Regions from separate parts of the Homo sapiens genome. Here region 2 is reported to be linked to region 1. Evidence: microRNA targets listed by miRTarBase, many of them from high-throughput screens and not tested one by one. Region 1 holds a microRNA gene; the other region holds the end of a gene's coding sequence.

Evidence for each region. Region 1 holds the annotated microRNA hsa-miR-520a-3p (AAAGUGCUUCCCUUUGGACUGU, at 1,371-1,392, opposite strand). A microRNA usually pairs through its seed, bases 2 to 8, with sites in the 3' UTR of a target mRNA and lowers its output. Matches are read on the target gene's strand: a 7mer-m8 pairs with bases 2 to 8, a 7mer-A1 pairs with bases 2 to 7 and ends in A, and an 8mer does both.
Region 2: the mRNA of ARL10 is a reported target of hsa-miR-520a-3p. The part of its 3' UTR that is shown has no 7-base or 8-base seed match.

The regions. Positions count from the first base shown.
Region 1 is chr19:53,689,083-53,692,324 of GRCh38, reverse strand. MIR520A (microRNA 520a) reads right to left here and starts at 1,444; the gene lies at 1,360-1,444. All of the region lies in intron 2 of LOC107985342 (a long non-coding RNA gene), which reads right to left.
Region 2 is chr5:176,371,379-176,374,378 of GRCh38, reverse strand. ARL10 (ARF like GTPase 10) reads right to left here. Exons shown (of 4, transcript NM_173664.6): 4 at 1-2,657. The coding sequence ends at 2,484. Among named protein-coding and RNA genes, the nearest start is that of MIR1271, 4.9 kb to the right of the region's middle.

The DNA.
Region 1 (3,242 bases):
TTATATTAGCCACAGCTAATATAAGACACATTTGACATCTTAGCAAGTAACTGGCATTTAGATGCAAGGTTTAAGCCCATTGGAATGGTACCTTGGAATCGTTACCCAAAGAAAATAGGATAAACATGGCAGCTACAGTCAAAGAACTCACTGGGGTTGGCATTAGTGGGTGAGGGTTGAATCAACTACACCCTTCCTGCAGAGAAAGCAGGTCTATTCCGAGAAATGATGGCAAGATGTTGGGGAAAAACAAATTTCAGTGTTACGGACAAGCAGATTACACTAAAAAGACACGAGTGAACAGGAACAAAAAGAAATTGTATCAATACGGACACCCACTGGGGATTACAGAATAGACTGGATGGACTTGGAGGATTACCCACTCTCTTAATGAAGGAACCATGGTTTGGATTGATTATACTAAATTGATGGGAGGCCATTGTATGACATGACCAACCCAAATGAAATCTGTGGGACCAGGTGCTATGTAATCTGTTTTTAAAGAAATGGGATCTTGCTATGTTGGCCCAGGCTGGAGTGCAGTGGCTATTCAAAGGTGGGATCTGTGCACGGTATAGCCTTAAAATCAAAGCACCCTCCCGCCCCGGCCCCTGCAGTAACTGGGACTGTGTGCCCCATGATGCCTGGCCAAGTCAACTATCTTTGAAATGGGTCATCAGGACAAGGTGGCTCACACCTGTAGGATCGCTTGAGCTCAGGAGTTGAGACCGTCCTGAGCAACAGAGACCCCATCTCTACCAAAAATTAAAAGCTGAACCAAGTGTTGTGTCACGCCCCATGTAATCCCAACTACTTGGGAGGCTGACTCAGGAAGACCACTTGAGGCCGGACACAGTGGCTCACGCCTGTAATACCAGCACTTTGGGAAGCCAGGGAGGCAAATCACTTGAAGTCAGGAGTTGAGAACAGCCCAGCAAACATGGTGTAACCCCATCTCTGCTAAAAATACAAAAATTAGCATGACATGGTGGTGGGCGCCTGTAATCCCAGCTACATGGGAGGCTGAGGTGGCAGAACTGCTGGAACCTGGGAGATGGAGGTTGCAGTGAGTGGAGATTGTCCTACTGCACTCCAGCCTGGGTCACAGAGCCAGATTCCATCTCTAAATGAATGAATGAATAAATAAATAAATAAATAAATAAATAAATAAATAAATAAATAGAGGGTCTCTTGGGCCCAGGAGAGCTAGGTTGGAACTGCCACTGCACTCCAGCCTGGGCAACAGAGACCCTGTCTTGGAGAAAAACAAAATCAGAACCCCAACATCATCCGAGTCTGATGATGAGCGTGCTCTGCAAATGTATTACCAAGATCAGCATCAACTTCAACGCTGCTTTACTCAAACCGAAACAGTCCAAAGGGAAGCACTTTCTTTTCTCTCAGACAACAGAAAGTACTTCCCTCTGGAGGGTCACAGCCTGAGATCTTCTTGCTCCAGCACTCTGGGTTTATTGTTGGAATTTTCCTTGACCAGGTTTAAATGGACACAAAAATAAAGATGCATTTTTCCTGGCCCTGTTTGCATGTTTTCTGGAATCCAGAATATAAACCCCCTAAAAGGACCATCTCCAGTTCCTTCTTTCAAAGGCTCAGCAGGTTAGCCTTGTTCATCAAGGGGCAATCCTCCTGAGTTTTGCCCCCAAAGAGAAAAAGCAATGCCTACTACTCATACCTTATCTTTAACCAAGAGAATCGAACTGAATTTCTAGAGAACAGCAATGGATTTTGAGCCAAGTGTTCACTTGAGTTCCAGTATAGGCACATGTAGTACCCATGGGGGCATCCAAAATGGAATCTAAGATGTTGAAGAATGTACATTGTCGCACACACAAACATCCTCCAGGAGAGACCACAGGCTACGCTGTAAAAGCTCCTCAATAAAAAAATACACAAGTACCTGTTGGGTGCGGTGGCTCACATCTCTAACCCCAGCACTTCAGGACGCCGAAGTGAGAGGATCACTTGAGCTCAAGAGTTCCAGACAAGCCTGGGCAACATGGTGAAGCTTCATCTGTACAAAAAATACAAAAGTGAGCCAGGTGTGGTGGTGCATACCTGTAGACACTAATTCAGGAGGCTGCGGTGGCAGGTGGAGGTTGCAGTGAGCCAACATTGCACCACTGCACTCCAGCCTCGGTGATATAGTCAGGCTGTGTCTTGTAAAAACTAGAAACACATACACACACACACACACACACACACACACACACAAAGACACACACTCAAAGTGATAGTCTCCTGCCTCACCCTCCGGAGTAGCTGAGACTACAGGCGTGCGCCACCAGCCCTGGCTAATTTTTTGTATTTTTAGCAGAGACATGGTTTCACCATGTTGGCCAGTCTGGTCTCGCCCTCCTGATCTCAGGTTATCCACCCGCCTCGGCCTCCCAAACTGCTGGGATTACAGGCGTGATCCACCGCACCTGGCCATACATCATATATTTTTGAGACCCTGTCTCAAAAGAAAGAAAGTTCCATATACTGTATGCTCACAGAAAGAATAATTCCTACACATAAGTCCTTGCTTTGGCAGCTCACACCCCCGTCTCTAAAATACAAAACCTAAATCAAGTGTGCGTTGATAACGTGGTCATACACCCTGTATTTCAGCTTCATTTACCCAATAAAAACTCAAAGCCCATGCACTCCACCTCTGTGCTCTTGCGAAGCAATGCACATCCCATCTGCAAGGGACACTGAGGTTCCCTTCAACTCTACCTCAAGTCAAGTCAAGGGAGGTTCTGTAAACCAGTGCAGGCATAACTTCCACGGAGTGAAAGGTGTTGAGGGCTGGACGAACAGGCATCACTCACTATGGCAACAAGAGCGGATGCGCATCCCACCTGTTACTAGGGAGGCCCTTCTAGGGTCCTCAAGGTTTTTGTGAAAGTATCTGTGGTTTTGTCCCATGTGACATTTATCACTGCAACTGAGATTCATCTTGTCTATAATAGCTTGTTTCTCATATTAGCCACAGCCAACATTTCACAGCTTACCAAGAAATTTGCATTTAAATGTGAGGTTTTGCAGGTTGGAATGGTACACTGGAAAAATTACCTGCAGAAAACAGGATAAACAGTGCAGCTGCAGTCACAGCACTCACTACGGTTGGCATGAGTGGGTGAGGGTTGAATCAACTACACCCTTCCTGCAGAAAAAGGTCTATTCCGAGAAATAAGTGGAAGCTGTTAAGCAAGAAAAATTTTCGATGTCAGGGACGA
Region 2 (3,000 bases), not on the chromosome of region 1:
CCGCTAACTGATTTAACATTGTAAACTGTGAGTTCCATAATGAGGTCAAATAGTGACAGAAGGTAGTGTCAGTGCGTGGGATTTTGGTCAATCTCTCAAAATTAAGGGGCTGAGCAAAATGAGGGACACTGTGAAGCTGAATTAAGTCTGGCCTAAAGCTGCCTCTGTACACAGTGAATTGTAACTTAACGTGTAAACAACTCGTAACCTAACCTAAAAGTATGTTCTTCTAACAAGTAGCCGAATTTTAGCCAATCACAGCAGCCAAACCTTCAGTCAATCGTCGGCTGAAGGCTGCTAAAACATGTTCAGGTAAGGCAAATGCCAGACTGCAGCCAATCAGGCAACCTAAGTTATTTTCGTTTCTCTGGCTATAAATGTAGCCTACACACATTGTGGGGCTGAGCATTCTGAACTGCTTTTGGTGCTAAGTACTAACCAGTTCACGAATCTTTTTTCTGCTCAAAAACAGAACATACTTTTTAAACTTCGTTAAAGTTGTCTAAGGTTTTTTTGCCTTCAAGCCCTGAAGAACAAGGAGTTCATAGAACAAAGGAGAAAAGTCTCTTAGCCTTCCAATGACAAAATGAAAAGCTGCCAGCAAAGTTTCAAAGGCTACTCTGAAACCCAAGTCATTCTTAAAATTTTACATAAAAGCCCATAAATCACTTCTTACTGCAGAAAGTGAACCAGCACTTTCAAGAACAGTGATTCTTCAAATGGCGCCCAAGGGCACAGCAGCCACTATTCCAAAGATCACACTCGCTTCTGGACTTCAGAATTTCCCACCCTCCTTGCGGCTTGTTGAACTGTTTTTATCATAGTTCCTCTTCTTACACTGGTCACGGTGTGGAACTGAGGCATGCTGGGTAAATGTCAAATGAAATGAAGGCACACAATCTCTATTCTCAACTAGACAGCAAATTGAGGTGCACAGCTCCTCTTAAAAAAAAAATCCATTTGTGGTTGTTGATTTAGTGGTCCCTAACAGACAACAGGCTCCTCTTTGCCTGTACCGATAATAAGTGTCAGTACAGAGCCAGTCCTTCAATTGGGCTGATCGCCAAGCACTGGAGAACTATGGAATGTGCACTGATGAGAACTCCAGAAATTCAGTCCAACTTGGCTTTCACTGGGGAAAAATTGGGTCCAGAAAGGCTGAGTGATGTACCCAAGGCCATCCCGTTGGCTGGTCTGCTATTCCTGTCCTTAGGATCACATAATACAATTTTTTTCCATCTTTTTACCTAGATTCACATAAGGGAAATCCTCTCCCAGAGTCATTTCTTATCTACCCAGAAGGAATTTGCACCCTTTCAACATCCTGGGCCAAGTGGTGGCGTTTCAGTTCATGTGAATCCATGTAAAGTACTATGATATCGACGACAGCCTCAAAGCCAGGTGGGAGGAGGAACCCACAACTTTGTCTCCACTGACATCTGTATGTTATCTCATTGTCATTCATGATTCCAGCTATTTTCCTAAGTTCCAAATTTTCTATGACTGTCATCTGGGGTTTTGAAAACAGCACCTAGAAACAGAGCCTAGAACTCTGGCCTGTTCTGCTTATAAATTAATAAATAAAATGCAGTTCTGAGGTCAACACCTAGCTCCAGTTGACTGTCGTCCCAGGGACACAGGCTCCTTCCTTCCCCTGACTTCTGTAAACATGGGCACTGGCACAGTTAGTACGAGAGCAGCAGCTTGTCTCCAGATTAGAGGGGAAAAACCCAGCCTTCACTTTTTCTGTTTGGTGGGTGAATATCAGTTATTCTGTAGTCAAGAGAGGCTGGCAGGCCAGGCCTGGGCTCAGGGAAAGGCAGGGAGGTCTTCAGAAAGCTCCTTGCTAGGATGGCCAGGTTCATCCTAGCACTTCACACTCCCATGGCTGGGAAAGGCATCTCCGAATTAGGAAACCACCTCCCTTTAAAAATAATGGCCCTGGGGTCAGAGAGGCAGAGATTGCACAAGGCCACAAGTCACTTAGGTGGAGCTGGGGCTGGACAATGCAGGACAGGAACAAAGGCTTGCTGTGTCACCACTCAGAAGCTGCCCACATGAGAAGGGCATGACGTCACCAGACTGTTTCTGGACTGGGAGACCTTGAGGCTCTAGGAGTATTTCTGACACCTACACTGGTTCCTCAGGTACCGGGACCTGTAGTGGAGGATTGAGCCCACTGAGCATCTCACTGTACAGGTAAGAGAAGGGAAAGCTGGATCCACATTCCAGCCTGGAATGAGCCAGACACTATCCTCCCCACCCTCTGTCTCACCCACCTCCCTGCTTCGGCTTCACGGCCACCTCACCAGGAAGGCTTCTGCATGGTTCTTGGCCTTGCCCAGGCCCTGCTCTTGAAAGGCAAAGGAGGGGAAAAGGGAAATGCTGCCATGTGGCTCTTGCCCCAGGCCCAGTCTGGCAATGAAGCAGCAGCAGTACAACTATGGTCTTGACAGGCAGGTGGCAAGCAGGAGAGCTCCAGCCTAGGAGAGGAGCTCCAAGAGCAGTTTCCAGATGTGCACGGTGCCAGGCTCTTCAAAGGTGGGTCCTGCAGGGGCAATGCTGGCTGCCAAGAGGAAAACCTCCCGCTGGTTATCGATAGCCTGTAGACCCAGCTCCCGCTGCAGCTCCCCCATACTCATGGCCTCGCTCAGGTCCTGGGTGAGACACAGAAGTCCGAACACAGCTGGCAGCATTTCCTAACACACTGACACCCTTGTCGTTCATGAAACACACTGTTCTTAGGCTATCCCCGGGAATATCAGGAAACACACTGTTCTTAGGCTATCCCCGGGAATATCAGGAAACACACTGTTCTTAGGCTATCCCCGGGAATATCAGGAAACACACTGTTCTTAGGCTATCCCCGGGAATATCAGGCCCCAAGTTCCCAGAAGTAGCCTCTGGACCCCTTGGCCTAAACTCAATGCTCTCTCCCTCACCCTGGGCTCTCCTTTGTACCAACCTCTTTTCATTGCATCATTAGCCACTGTTTTGAGA